Linked DNA regions of Homo sapiens: region 2 is linked to region 1. The links come from fine-mapping of genetic effects on gene expression. Tissue or cell type: monocytes. Region 1 holds a variant in brackets; the other region holds the start of a gene. All regions are shown on one strand. Distances are from middle to middle.

Evidence for each region. PIP is the estimated chance that this variant, and not a neighbour inherited with it, causes the effect.
Region 2: it holds the start of ANAPC13, and the variant in region 1 is fine-mapped to the expression of ANAPC13 in monocytes (Quach 2016, PIP 0.95).

The regions. Positions count from the first base shown.
Region 1 is chr3:135,023,887-135,031,886 of GRCh38, reverse strand. The region is part of intron 3 of EPHB1 (EPH receptor B1); the gene reads right to left. Among named protein-coding and RNA genes, the nearest start is that of EPHB1, 230 kb to the right of the region's middle. The variant C/T (reference allele first, on the strand shown) is at 3,826.
Region 2 is chr3:134,481,876-134,489,875 of GRCh38, reverse strand. ANAPC13 (anaphase promoting complex subunit 13) reads left to right here and starts at 3,891. Exons shown (of 3, transcript NM_015391.4): 1 at 3,891-3,924; 2 at 6,945-7,070. The coding sequence starts at 6,972. CEP63 (centrosomal protein 63) reads right to left here and starts at 3,819. Exons shown (of 15, transcript NM_001353108.3): 1 at 3,674-3,819. RefSeq lists enhancers at 2,887-3,705, 3,797-3,906, 3,987-4,086, 4,117-4,236.

The DNA.
Region 1 (8,000 bases):
GATTTTTAACTTAGACATCATACCCAGCCAATCAACGAAATATAAGGGTAGGATAATTGTATTTTCAGAGAAGTGAGGATACAAAACATTTACCTTTCAAGCATACTTTTGAAGAGAGGACTTGAGGAAGGAGTTGGGAGATCATCTGAACTATCTGAGCATTTGGAAAATAATATTTGTTATTATTATAGAATTTTGATTGGCTTTGTGGAAAAAAGTACAAGAAAAAGAAAATAACAATGTAACTCTACTTGGCTAAGCATTGAAAAATAGTTGCAGCTGGATGCAGTGGCTCATGCCTATAACCCCGGCAATTTGGGAGATCCAGGCAGGCAGATCACTTGAGCCCAGGAGTTCAAGACCAGCATGGACAATGTGGAGAAACCCTGCCTCTACAAAATATACAAAAATTCGCCAGGCATGGTGGTGTATACCTCCAGTCACAGCTACGCTGGATGCTGAGGCAGGAGGATTATTTGAGCCCAGGAGGCAGAAGTTGCAGTGAGCTGAGACCAGGCCACTACACTCCAGACAAGGCTACAGAGTGAGACCCCATCAAGAAACAGAGAAAGAGAGAAAGGGAGAAAGAGAGAGAGAGAAGGAAGAAAAGAGAGAAGGGATTCTTTGTAACCTTCTTGAGGGAGGAGCCAAGAGGGCCGAATAGGAACAGCTCCAGTCTACAGCTCTCAGCCTGACGACACAGAAGACAGGTGATTTCTGCATTTCCATCTGAGGTACGGGGTTCATCTCACTAGGGAGTGCCAGACAGTGGGCGCAGGTCAGTGGGTGCGCGCACCGTGCACGAGCCAAAGCAGGGCGAGACATTGCCTGACTCGGGAAGCGCAAGGGGTCAGGGAGTTCCCTTTCCTAATCAAAGAAAGGGGTGATGGACGGCACCTGGAGAATAGGGTCACACCCACCCGAATACTGCGCTTTTCCGACGGGCTTAAAAAATGGCGCACCACGAGATTACATGCCGCACCTGGCTCCGAGGGTCCTACTCCAAGGAGTCTCGCTGATTGCTAGCACAGCAGTCTGAGATCAAACTGCAAGGCGGCAGCGAGGCTGGGGGAGGGGCGCCCACCATTGCCCAGGCTTGCTTAGGTAAACAAAGCAGCAGGGAAGCTTGAACTGGGTGGAGCCCACCACAGCTCAAGGAGGCCTGCCTGCCTCTGTAGGCTCCACCTCTGGGGGCAGGGCACAGACAAACAAAAAGACAGCAGTAACCTCTGCGGACTTAAATGTCCCTGTCTGACAGCTTCGAAGAGAGCAGTGGTTCTCCCAGGACGCAGCTGGAGATCTGAGAACGGGCAGACTGCCTCCTCAAGTGGGTCCCTGACCCCTGACCCCCGACCAGCCTAACTGGGAGGCACCCTCCAGCAGGGGCATACTGACACCTCACACTGCAGGGTATTCCAACAGACCTGCAGCTGAGGGTCCTGTCTGTTAGAAGGAAAACTAACAAACAGAAAGGACATCCACACCAAAAACCCATCTGTACATCACCATCATCAAAGACCAAAAGTAGATAAAACCACAAAGATAGGGAAAAAACAGAACAGAAAAAATGGAAACTCTAAAAAGCAGAGCGCCTCTCCTCCTGCAAAGGAACGCAGCTCCTCACCAGCAACAGAACAAAGCTGGACGGAGAATGACTTTGACGAGCTGAGAGAAGAAGGCTTCAGACGATCAAATTACTCTGAGCTATGGGAGGAAATTCAAACCAAAGGCAAAGAAGTTGAAAACTTTGAAAAAAATTTAGAAGAATGTATAACTAGAATAACCAATACAGAGAAGTGCTTAAAGGAGCTGATGGAGCTGAAAACCAAGGCTCGAGAACTACGTGAAGAATGCAGAAGCCTCAGGAGCCGATGCAATCAACTGGAAGAAAGGGTATCAGTAATGGAAGATGAAATGAATGAAATGAAGCGAGAAGGGAAGTTTAGAGAAAAAAGAATAAAAAGAAACGAGCAAAGCCTCCAAGAAATATGGGACTATGTGAAAAGACAAAATCTACCTCTGATTGGTATACCTGAAAGTGATGGGGAGAATGGAACCAAGTTGGAAAACACTCTGCAGGATATTATCCAGGAGAATTTCCCAAATCTCGCAAGGCAGGCCAACGTTCAGATTCAGGAAATACAGAGAATGCCACAAAGATACTCCTCGAGAAGAGCAACTCCAAGACACATAAGTGTCAGATTCACCAAAGTTGAAATGAAGGAAAAAATGTTAAGGGCAGCCAGAGAGAAAGGTCGGGTTACCCTCAAAGGGAAGCCCATCAGACTAACAGCGGATCTCTCGGCAGAAACCCTACAAGCCAGAAGAGAGTGGGGGCCAATATTCAACATTCTTAAAGAAAAGAATTTTCAACCCAGAATTTCATATCCAGCCAAACTAAGCTTCATAAGTGAAGGAGAAATAAAATACTTTATAGACAAGCAAATGCTGAGAGATTTTGTAACCACCAGGCCTGCCCTAAAAGAGCTTCTGAAGGAAGCGCTAAACATGGAAAGGAACAACCAGTACCAGCTGCTGCAAAATCATGCCAAAATGTAAAGACCATCCAGACTAGGAAGAAACTGCATCAACTAACGAGCAAAATGACCAGCTAACATCATAATGACAGGATCAAATTCACACATAACACTATTAACTTTAAATGTAAATGGACTAAATGCTCCAATTAAAAGACACAGACTGGCAAATTGGCAAGAGTCAAGACCCATCAGTGTGCTGTATTCAAGAAACCCATCTCACGTGCAGAGACACACATAGGCTCAAAATAAAAGGATGGAGGAAGATCTACCAAGCAAAGGGAAAACAAAAAAAGGCAGGGGTTGCAATCCTAGTCTCTGATAAAACAGACTTTAAACCAACAAAGATCAAAAGAGACAAAGAAGGCCATTACATAATGGTAAAGGGATCAATTCAACAAAAAGAGCTAACTATCCTAAATATATATGCACCCAATACAGGAGCACCCAGATTCATAAAGCAAGTCCTGAGTGACCTACAAAGAGACTTAGACTCCCACACATTAATAATGGGAGACTTTAACACCCCACTGTCAACATTAGACAGATCAACGAGACAGAAAGTCAACAAGGATACCCAGGAATTGAACTCAGCTCTGCACCAAGCAGACCTAATAGACATCTACAGAACTCTCCACCCCAAATCAACAGAATATACATTTTTTTCAGCACCACACCACACCTATTCCAAAATTGACCACATACTTGGAAGTAAAGCTCTCCTCAGCAAAGGTAAAAGAACAGAAATTATAACAAACTATCTCTCAGACCACAGTGCAATCAAACTAGAACTCAGGATTAAGAATCTCACTCAAAACCGCTCACCTACATGGAAACTGAACAACCTGCTCCTGAATGACTACTGGGTACGTAACGAAATGAAGGCAGAAATAAAGATGTTCTTTGAAACCAACGAGAACAAAGACACAACATACCAGAATCTCTGGGACACATTCAAAGCAGTGTGTAGAGGGAAATTTATAGCACTAAATGCCTACAAGAGAAAGCAGGAGAGATCAAAAATTGACACCCTAACATCACAATTAAAAGAACTAGAAAAGCAAGAGCAAACACATTCAAAAGCTAGTAGAAGGCAAGAAATAACTAAAATCAGAGCAGAACTGAAGGAAATAGAGACACAAAAAACCCTTCAAAAAATTAGTGAATCCAGGAGCTGGTTTTTTGAAAGGATCAACAAAATTGATAGACCGCTAGCAAGACTAATAAAGAAAAAAAGAGAGAAGAATCAAATAGACACAATAAAAAATGATAAAGGGGATATCACCAC[C/T]GATCCCACAGAAATACAAACTACCATCAGAGAATACTACAAACACCTCTACGCAAATAAACTAGAAAATCTAGAAGAAATGGATAAATTCCTTGACACATACACTCTCCCAAGACTAAACCAGGAAGAAGTTGAATCTCTGAATAGACCAATAACAGGATCTGAAGTTGTGGCAATAATCAATACCTTACCAAGCAAAAAGAGTCCAGGACCAGATGGATTCACAGCCGAATTCTACCAGAGGTACAAGGAGGAACTGGTACCATTCCTTCTGAAACTATTCCAATCAATAGAAAAAGAGGGAATCCTCCCTAACTCATTTTATGAGGCCAGCATCATTCTGATACCAAAGCCGGGCAGAGACACAACCAAAAAAGAGAATTTTAGACCAATATCACCAATATCCTTGATGAACATTGATGCAAAAATCCTCAATAAAATACTGGCAAAACGAATCCAGCAGCACATCAAAAAGCTTATGCACCATGATCAAGTGGGCTTCATCCCTGGGATGCAAGGCTGGTTCAATATACGCAAATCAATAAATGTAATCCAGCATATAAACAGAGCCAAAGACAAAAACCACATGATTATCTCAATAGATGCAGAAAAGGCCTTTGACAAAATTCAACAACCCTTCATGCTAAAAACTCTCAATAAATTAGGTATTGATGGGACGTATTTCAAAATAATAAGAGCTATCTATGACAAACCCACAGCCAATATCATACTGAATGGGCAAAAACTGGAAGCATTCCCTTTGAAAACTGGCACAAGACAGGGATGCCCTCTCTCACCACTCCTATTCAACATAGTGCTGGAAGTCCTGGCCAGGGCAATTAGGCAGGAGAAGGAAATAAAGGGTATTCAATTAGGAAAAGAGGAAGTCAAATTGTCCCTGTTTGCAGATGACATGATTGTATATGTAGAAAACCCCATTGTCTCAGCCCAAAATCTCCTTAAGCTGATAAGCAACTTCAGCAAAGTCTCAGGATACAAAATCAATGTGCAAAAATCACAAGCATTCCTATACACCAACAACAGACAAACAGAGAGCCAAATCATGAGTGAACTCCCATTCACAATTGCTTCAAAGAGAATAAAATACCTAGGAATCCAACTTACAAGGGATGTGAAGGACCTCTTCAAGGAGAACTACAAACCACTGCTCAAGGAAATAAAAGAGGATACAAACAAATGGAAGAACATTCCATGCTCATGGGTAGGAAGAATCAATACCGTGAAAATGGCCATACTGCCCAAGGTAATTTACAGATTCAATGCCATCCCCATCAAGCTACCAATGCCTTTCTTCACAGAATTGGAAAAAACTACTTTAAAGTTCATATGGAACCAAAAAAGAGCCCGCATTGCCAAGTCAATCCTACGCCAAAAGAACAAAGCTGGAGGCATCACACTACCTGACTTCAAACTATACTACAAGGCTACAGTAACCAAAACAGCATGGTACTGGTACCAAAACAGAGATATAGATCAATGGAACAGAACAGAGCCCTCAGAAATAACGCCGCATATCTACAACTATCTGATCTTTCACAAACCTGAGAAAAACAAGCAATGGGGAAAGGATTCCCTATTTAATAAATGGTGCTGGGAAAACTGGCTAGCCATATGTAGAAAGCTGAAACTGGATCCCTTCCTTACACCATATACAAAAATCAATTCAAGATGGATTAAAGACTTAAACGTTAGACCTAAAACCATAAAAACCCTAGAAGAAAACCTAGGCATTACCATTCAGGACATAGGCATGGGCAAGGACTTCATGTCTAAAACACCAAAAGCAATGGCAACAAAAGACAAAATTGACAAATGGGATCTAATTAAACTAAAGAGCTTCTGCACAGCAAAAGAAACTACCATCACAGTGAACAGGCAACCTACAAAATGGGAGAAAATTTTTGCAACCTACTCATCTGACAAAGGGCTAATATCCAGAATCTACAATGAACTCAAACAAATTTACAAGAAAAAAACAAACAACCCCATCAAAAAGTGGGTGAAGGACATGAACAGACACTTCTCAAAAGAAGACATTTATGCAGCCAAACAACACATGAAAAAATGCTCATCATCACTGGCCATCAGAGAAATGCAAATCAAAACCACAATGAGATACCATCTCACACCAGTTAGAATGGCAATCATTAAAAAGTCAGGAAACAACAGGTGCTGGAGAGGATGTGGAGAAATAGGAACACTTTTACACTGTTGGTGGGACTGTAAACTAGTTCAACCATTGTGGAAGTCAGTGTGGCGATTCCTCAGGGATCTAGAACTAGAAATACCATTTGACCCAGCCATCCCATTACTGGGTATATACCCAAAGGACTATAAATCATGCTGCTATAAAGACACATGCACACGTATGTTTATTGCGGCATTATTCACAATAGCAAAGACTTGGAACCAACCCAAATGTCCAACAATGATAGACTTGATTAAGCAAATTGTGGCACATATACACCATGGAATACTATGCAGCCATAAAAAATGATGAGTTCATGTCCTTTGTAGGGACATGGATGAAATTGGAAATCATCATTCTCAGTAAACTATCGCAAGAACAAAAAACCAAACACCGCATATTCTCACTCATAGGTGGGAACTGAACAATGAGATCACATGGACACAGGAAGGGGAACATCACACTCTGGGGATTGTTGTGGGGTGGGGGGAGGGGGGAGGGATAGCATTGGGAGATATACCTAATGCTAGATGACGAGTTAGTGGGTGCAGCACACCAGCATGGCACATGTATACGTATGTAACTAACCTGCACAGTGTGCACATGTACCCTAAAACTTAAAGTATAATAATAAATAAATAAATAAATAAATATTCTTTGTAACCTTCTTGAAAAAAAAAAAAAAAAGAAAGAAGGAAGGAGGGAAGGAAGGAGGGAAGGAAGGAAGGAAGGGGGGAGGGAGGGAGGGAGGGAAGGAAGGAAGGTTGTATAGATATAATAATCTAAACACGCTACATTTAACAAAAAAGTTGTAAATATATGTTAACAAAGTGAACAAATATACATTTTGTATTATACATATGTAGATATGAAAAATCATATATAATTACCACATGGATATATAATACATATAGTAATAGATATTAGCAAAATAAGAGAAGAAGAAAAATATAGAAAGGGGCAAGAGATCCAAATCCTCAGCATTGATAAAGGGAAGTCAAAAGACAATGTCTAAATTGACATCAATAAAGCACATTAAGCATATAATTCAAAAAATGGGAGTATATCTAAGAAACAGATAGGAAGTGTTAGGGAAAAGAATGGGGTAGGGGAGATGATCAGGAAACTGATTTTTTCCTTTTGGTACTCATGGAATTGTTTAATCCATTACTTTAATAAAAATAGAAATTAATTTACGAAATGAAAAGCTGCCATTTCCAAAGTGGGCCCACTACAACAGGAAGGAAAAAGGTGCTAGACAACCCCCCGGTGTAGGATGGATGGAGACCAGATGAAAAGGGAGCCCCCAGACACGTGCTCTGCTCTGGCTGGGAACTAGCACACTTTTAAATTCTGGCGATGTCCATCCGTGTTTCTAAACCACGTGGTTGAAAGGTTTTAAAGAAGGTGGCTTTAGCAGATTAGTTGGAACTTCCCCTCTCTGGGATTAAAACAGAAGAAGTAAAAGTTGTATTTTCACAACTAGAGCAACACTAGAGCCCTGTTTTCATTCCACCCAACAGTTTGTGACATGAAAATAAACAATATGGAAAGGAGGTGTTTCTATATTTTTCCCGAGTCTCTTGAGATGAAGTTGGGCAAAGGGTATGCAGCCAAACTGTTTTCACACCATGCTTCAACTGAGTCTCACACTTCTTTGCATTTAGAGGGGATTTTCATCACTGCCTGGTTTCAGAATTGACTAGGTAGAGACTGTAAGCTGATAGCTCAGCTCAGCCATCATTACCACGTGTGGCCTGAACCAAGTGTTGGTGGTGTCTGGAAGAGCTGATTACATGTATTTAAAGTTGCAGCGGGGCCCCTTTTCAGTTTGGCCCAAAATAAACTACTTCATTGTTCATCCCAAATTATAATCTTAACCAGTGATATATTCACCTAAAATACCAAACTATATATTCAAAACAATTCTCCTAAGAAACAGGAATTATTTTTTAAAGAGTTTAAA
Region 2 (8,000 bases), 540 kb after region 1:
AGTTTAAATATAAAGTCTATAAGTTCATGATTATAGGTTTACAAAAAGGCAAAAACCCTCATGGTTACCTTTGGAGGCTGCTAGGCCACCAACTCATTACTGTGGTCTGAAAATAGAGGCAAAGAATTAAGCATTTTTCTTGCCTTTCCTGTACAAATTGTATTTCAGGGTAGTCAAACAGCTGGAAAGGGAAAGTTCTTCATAAAAGACTCTCAGTTGATAAATATTGAAGAAATAATAGAATTAGATAATCACCACGTTGCAACCTCTAATGCAATAACGGATACAGGCAATATAACCCCACAAAAGGACTTCACCACTAAGTGAAAGAGTCTTGGGGAATTTCACTATGGGTGGATGGAGCTAACTACACCTAAACCCAATATAATGTTTAATGTTAACATCATAAAAAAAGAAAACAACTCAGACACTGCTTCCCTGATAATTAATGAAATAGGAAGTATACTGCATTACCTATGAAATTATCTGTCCAACCCCCCCAACTATCCCACCAAAAAACAAAACAAAAACAAATATAAGGGTGAAATCTCATCAGGCTTCTAGAGCAGTGCTGTTCAATACAACTTTCTGCAATTATGAAAATATTTTATAACTGCACTGTTCAAAAAGCAGCCACCAGGCAATCTGTAGCTACCGAGCACTTGAAATGTGGCTAATGCAAGTTAGGAACTGAATTTTTTTTTTTTTTTTTTTTTTGAGACAGTCTCGCTCCGTCACCCAGGCTGGAGTGCAGTGGCGTGATCTCGGCTCACTGCAACCTCCACCTCCCGGGTTCAAGCGATTCTCCTTCTCCTGCCTCAGCTTCCTTAGTAGCTGAGATTACAGGCGCATGCCACCACGCCCGGCTAATTTTTCATTTTTAGTAGAGACGGGGTTTCACCATGTTGGTCAGGCTGGTCTCGAACTCCTGACCTCGTGATCCACCCACCTCAGCCTCCCAAAGTGCTGGGATTACAGGCGTGAGCCACCGCGCCCAGCCTAGGAACTGAATTTTTAATTTTATTTCACTTTAATTAACTAGCCACTGCTGGCTGGTGGCTACAATACCGGACAGTGCAATTCTACATCTAACTACTGGTTTAGAGCAGTGGTCCCCAACCTTTTTGGCACCAGGGACCTGTTTCATGGAAGACAATTTCTCAACACCGACAGGGCGGAAATAACACATTTTGTAAATATCTTTTTGTTAAAATTCATATGAAATGTTTTGGGGGAGGAATGGCCAAACCACTTTTTTTTGTTTTTTGAGACCGAGTCTTGCACTCTTGCCTGGTCTGGAGAGCAATGGTGTGATCTCGGCTCACTGCAACCTCCGCCTCCCGGATTCACGTGATTCTCCTGCCTCAGCCTCCCGAGTAGCTGGGATTACAGGCGCACACCACCACACTCGGCTAATTTTATTGCATTTTCAGTAGAGACGGGGTTTCACTATGTTGGCCACACTGGTCTCAAACTCCTGACCTCATGCCCACCTCGGCCTCCCAAAGTGCTGGGATTACAGGCGTGAGTCACCGCGCCCGGCCAACCACTTCTTCAGTAATATGAATAATACACATGGACAGGGTTAGGGGCATGGTTTCAGGATGAAACTATTCCACCTCAGATCATCAGGCATTAGTCAGATTCTTATAAGTGTGCAACCTAGATTCCTTGCATGCGCAGTTTACAATAGGGTTCGTGCCCCTAGGAGAATCTAACCTCACGGCTGATCTGACAGGAGGCAGAGCTCAGGTGGTAGGTAATGCTCACTAGCCTGTCACTCACCTCCTGCTCTGTAGCCTGGTTCCTAACAGGCCACGGACTGGTACTGCTCTGCGGCCCCGGGTTTGGGGGCCCCTGGTTTAGAGGACACAAAGGCAACAGAGATACATGTTAAAGGATACTGTGCGATGCAATCTGCTAAATTTAGAACTGTAAGGAAAAATAGGGGCTAATCCCATAGCTATAACTATGAGGGAACAAATATAGATTAAAAGATGTCAAATGTGCATCACCCAAACACAATAGGCAGATCCCTGTGGGATTTTGGTTCAAACAAGCTAATTGTAAAAAGACATTTAAGAGACAGTTGAAGAAATCGTTATCTGACTGGATATTGACATTAGAGAATTTTTATTAATTTGTGTATGTGTAATGACAGTACTGTGGCTCTGTAAAACTGAAAAACCTAGCTCCTGATGGGGGCGGGGAGGCGGACTAAAATAACATAAAGATCGGAGATTCAGTTCCTGAAACCTTCTGTCAATGTTGGCTTTAGCTGAATTTCAAGTCAAGTTGACATTTTTTGAAAGCAGGAAGCAATGACAGAGTGGACTACTGATGCTGTCACCATCTGCCAGCACAACATAAATTAGAACAGAAAGGACTAAGCAAAGGTCTTCCACCATTTTAACGAGAGGAAATGGCATCAGTACAATCAACATACACAATTTTTACAAACAACTTTTAGATTTGCATCTACATACATTTTAAAAGGCAGTGTGCCTGTTTATAAATCTCTACTCTAATTTAGTTTCAGAGCTTTTTACTACCCTGATCACTGATAATGCCACAGTCAAAAAGCAAACTCAAAATAAAAATCAATCTAAAAATGGTACTGCATGCCAAATAAGAAAATATATACACTTTATCATTAAGCTACAGCTAACAGAAATCTAATCAACGATCCTTATGATTTCCTCGTATCTAAAAAATAAATGCAAGCACTTGAGGAACTGTATAAATACAGGGCATCTACCCTACAATACTGCTTTATTAAAATAATAAATTCTTTTAATAAGTTTAACCAGACATAAGGCTCAGGGAAAACTACTCTGTGCATATCAGCGTACGGTGCTGAAACTGTAAAAGACGACCTGTCTCTGACATCATACTCATCTTTACTCTCCTGATGTCGTAAGGGACGTAAGAAAAACCACATTATAAGCCTAAATGTACTGTCTTCAAGTATCTCCATGATTAAAGTGTTCCTAAGAAACCGTCCTTATTTCTTTCTATCCCTCATTTGTGTGCATGGAGCCGTTAGTTCAGGGTTCTCCAATTTCAGTCCACGATTTATGCCACATTTCCGTACCTCTTGTACTAACATAACCGTTTAAACCAACTCACTATTTTAAAAGCTGCCAACCTTAACATGCCACACTAAATGAGCGGGTCCCCTTGTGCCGTGAATGAAGTAGTCCCAACAGCGCTAGCTAGACAGCAGCCCTGGCAGGGAGGCCGCACTGGGGTCTCTCCGCTGAAAAGGAAGGTGGGTCCGCCGGGGAAGGTGAGTACTGGGCGCAGCTCGCTCGCCCACCTGGCCACTCTCCGAAGCGCCCCCAGCCACCTGGACTCCGAGGAAGGGCTGACCACCTGGCGGGGCCGAACCCCACGCCGGGCTGCGCCACGCCAGACTCCGCCAGTGTGCAGGGCATAGCGGGCCAGGCCGAGGGACTGGGCTTCGGGGCGGACCCAAGCCGGCGGGGACGCGCCTGGTGGTTCGCAGGCCGTTGCGCAAACCGGCCGCAAGCCATGAGGCCGCGAAGCCAGAATCACCAAGGCAGCCTGGGCCGCCTCCAGACCAGGACACGGCAGCCCCTTGCCCCTCCAACTTGCGCACCGGCGGTTACAGGGTTGCCGCAAGCACGCCCCTGAGCCTTCCCGCCGTTACCTCGGGCCGGCGCTGCGCACGCGCGCCACCGCTAAGCTTACGTCCAGCCTCTGTAGTCGGCGCGTTTGTTCCGCCCACTGCCCCCACACTTTTAATAATTGAAACAATGCCTTCTCCAGACTTCCCCTGCACGCGAGCAAATGAACTCACCCACATCCGGGAATCCGAGGAAAGCGAGTGCAGACACGTGATGCGGGGGAGGGGGGGGGGGCGTGGCAGGAGCAAGCGTCTGCCGCGGTGGCCGGGTGCCGGTAAGGGTTTCCAGCGCCCCCGGCCTAGGTTTTGGAGGCGCGGGAATGCGTTCGTTGCTCAGTGTCGGACTTCCCCCTATTCCCATCGGCCGAGGCTGTCACTTTACGCTCATAACCGTTTTTCTTTACTGCACTCGTGTCGGGAGGAAAGGGACTTGCGTGGCACCCCCAGACCTCCCCGTCTCCGCTTCCACGTTTGGTACATCCTGCCTGAGGCAGGAAGCCGCAGCTGAGGGACGGCCTGTCGTACGGTGCGGATGGTGGTGGCCTGCGAGGCTCATTTCTAGCAAGGAACAAGGCTTTCCCGCTTTGATTTTATAAATATTATGTTTACAAAGCTGTAATATATAGAAATTGATAAGACGTGTCCCTGTCCCTGGAAACGCAGGCACCGCGTGTTTGGAAAGACATTCATCTGGGCTGTTTGACAGACTCCCCAGTTGGTGCCATGCTCTGTGCTTAGGGAACTGTGAGACCCCTGGAGGGGTGGGTACCGGGACCGCACTCAGCCTGGGGTTTGGAGGCGGCCTCCTATAGGAAGCGACCTGGGACCTAAGATTTTTAGACTGACTGTGGGTTCACTGGAATAAAAAGGAAGAAACAAAGAGCATTGCAGGCATCGGGACTGTCACGTGAGTAAGAAAAGTTTGTTCAGGAAACAGTGGTCGTACTGGGTGACGAGTACTTGGGACGGTGGCTTTAATACACAAGATAATCAGTGTGCCCTGGGCATTGATTATCTTGATGCTTCCCATCCTTCCAGCCCCTTATGAGGGAAGGCACCTTCGCGCCTAATCCCGGAAATGGGATGTTGACCTTCAAGAGCTGACGCCTGCGTTTATCTTGAAAGGAAGAGTGGCATTAGTGATGTGGAAAAGGGGGTTTTAACTGTCAAGGCTGGAAAATGTGACAGGGTTGGAGGTGTTTGGAGAAGGGACAGGTGAAAAAGATTGAGACCAAATGTGGAAAGATCTACTAAGGAATCATGGGTACAAAATGTACACGTAACAGTTGGAGGCAATAATACCTGAGCAATTGACCACAAAGCTGACCTAGCTTGTTTAGTAGATTAAGTTAGGACAAGAAGCAAGAGTTCAAGGATAGAAGGCCTACTGAAGCTCGAGTGATTTGAGAAAACTTTACAAAGGTGGAAAATCTACGTGGGCCTCCGAAAGTCAGGTTTGGATCAGCTGAGGAAAGTGAGAAGGGTATCCCAGGAGACAGAGCAGCAAGGACAAAGGAGTAGCAGCAGGAAAGTGGGGAGCACTTGTAAGACAGGGACTTCAAAAGTATAACCAAAACTTCGTCTTGCTTTGAGTTATCCACTGGGTAGTACTCGGTTAATTATTGAGTACTGGATTAATTAAGCCCTCACCTGGCTCACCGGTGACAGAAGTAGCAGGGCGCATTTTGCTTAACTTTTGCCGAGATCCTTGTCATGGGGGTGTAAACCCTTTCCCACACCAATCTGTGTATAATTTTTGCCAAGGTGTTAGGGATATCTTGCAGTTATCCTATGGGGGACAGCTGTGAGCCTTTTTGGTTTTTTTTGTTTTTTTTTTTCCGAGACGGAATCTTGCTCTGTCGCCCAGGCTGGAGTGCAGTGGCGCGTGGCGCTATCTCGGCTCACTGCAAGCTCCGCCTCCCAGGTTCACGCCATTCTCCTGCCTCAGCCTCCCGAGTAGCTGGGACTACAGGCGCCTGCCACCATGCTCGGCTAATTTTTTGTATTTTTAGTAGAGACGAGGTTTCACCCTGTTAGCCAGGATGGTGTTGATCTCCTGACCTCGTGATCCGCCCACCTCGGTCTCCCAAAGTGCTGGATTACAGGCGCGAGCCACCGCGCCCGGCCCTGTGAGCCATTTTTACAAAAACTTCCACCTGCCTTGGCCCAAACCTCAGCGTTCTTAGGCACAGGAGCTCATGAACATACTGAGATAACACTAAACTGGACTATGCGAAGGGACCAACTACAGACCTGACACAAATCCTCAAGGCAAGACGATGTCTGAAGTTGAGCTTGTAAAGGAAATGGCTTCCTTCCTTAAAATATCACCCAGGCTGAGCTCTGAAAAAAGCACCTCCAGATGGTGGGTTCCACCCCGCTCCACCACCCCAAAATTGCTTATTGTGTGAGTCTCCATAGTCTCAGAAACTGAGAGTACCTTTGATGCCAGTGGCTTCCGGGCTTTTTGGATTGTCACTTGGTAGCAGGGAGCACCCATAGGATGATGCCTATGATGAGTCAGGGCCCAACCTTGGAAACAGGGAAATCCAGAAGTATCCTACAAGCTAGCCAGCCTTTTGGATTAGATTATAGCAGTTTCAGAGAAAAATGGGGAATCAGCCATGGTCAAGGAGCTAAATAAGCATCGTGACCATTTGGGCCAGAAATTGAAGGGAGTGTAGCGTTAAGAATTAGAGGAAGGAACCTCCGAGGAAGGAGCTACCCCAAAGGGAAGCAGAAACTGGAGAAACTTTAGCAGTATGAGGTTCTACCACTGGTGTTCACCTAGAAGTGCTTTATTCAGATCTCAGCCTGGGTACTATTTTAGGGAAGGAAGCCGTTTCCTTTACAGTATGTTCGTGTGACTCCTGTGCCTAAGAATGCTGAGGTTTGAGCCAGGGGCTAGAAAGGAAACTTAGCTGGCCATTATGAATCAGGGACTCATCAAAGGCATCACAAACAGGAAAAGGTGAATGTTCAAGTTAGAAGAGAAGAGCTACATTGAGATGCAACATATTAATATTTGAGGGCCTCGTTTAACGTGTTGCTCTCCTGTCACACTCTATGACACTGGTCTGTCAGCTGGGCTATGCCTGTCCAGTATACACTATAAAATATGTATCAGTTGGGGTTGGAGAGAGGAACTGTGATCAAAGTAGTCACCCGGCCCATATGAGAAAATGAACCTTTTCCCAAAAGGTGGCCCCAGACTAAAAAGCCTGGAGAATCCTAATAGTGGATTATACCATCTCTTCAGTCTTCGTGTTTAAGAAATAACCTCTTTGGCTTACAGATTTGACAAGATCAAAGCTGCAGGAAAATGGACAGTGAGGTTCAGAGAGATGGAAGGATCTTGGATTTGATTGATGATGCTTGGCGAGAAGACAAGCTGCCTTATGAGGATGTCGCAATACCACTGGTAGGTTATGATTTGAGCTGAGGATGGGTTAAAGGTATTGATCTGGCAGTAACTAGTGGAGGAGGGATATCAATGGAAGATAAACTAGTGTGGCAAAGAAATCAAAGCTGTGGAATTCTCTAACTCTAGAAGCTTCTGGAGAGCATCCAGTTGTATGTTTTATTTGAAGAAAAATGTGGTTCAGGGAGCTAACATGGCCAGGTCAGTTAGGAGTCATGCCAGGACTAGAGCCCCGATTTTCTGAGCCATGTTCTGTCCACCACACGAAAACCAGAGAAACCAAATAATGAGAGTTTAATGCGCAAGATGGGGAAGAACAAGAAGCAGCAGCATATGAGCTCTGTTTCTTACTTCCCTGCCTGTGGCTCATCAGTCTTTCAGCATTTTTAGAAACTTACATTCTTGGAGCATACACCTATCTTAGGTTCCCTGGAAAATATTCAGAAGATACCTGGGTATTCTTTTGCGTTTAGGCCAGTGGCCTTCTGGAATACTCTTTTCTTCCCCATCTTTGGAAAACTCTGCTGCAGGGAGTTTGTTAAACCTCATGTAATAAGTGATCCAAAAGTTTTGCTTATATAAATGTTTGTTTAAAATCCTATTTATGTCATAGAGGCCTAAAAAAGGGAAAACAGGACTGTTTTTCTTTAAAGCATGCCAGCTGCCCTGAGAAGAGTAGTTAGTATTGAATAAAATATAATTTATAGTTAGAATATCTGCTGTTGCTGTTTGCAAAGAAATAAAATAGTTCATCTGTATTTTCATTTACGAATAAGAGATAGTAATATGTTCAATGAATAATATACATATCAAATAAGTCATAGCTTAGTTCAAGCTTAGGAAAATAGTCAAAAGAGAGAGCATAATAAGAATTATAGATGTCATTTATTGAATACCAGTTTTATGCCATGGACTGAGGTTGGAAATATA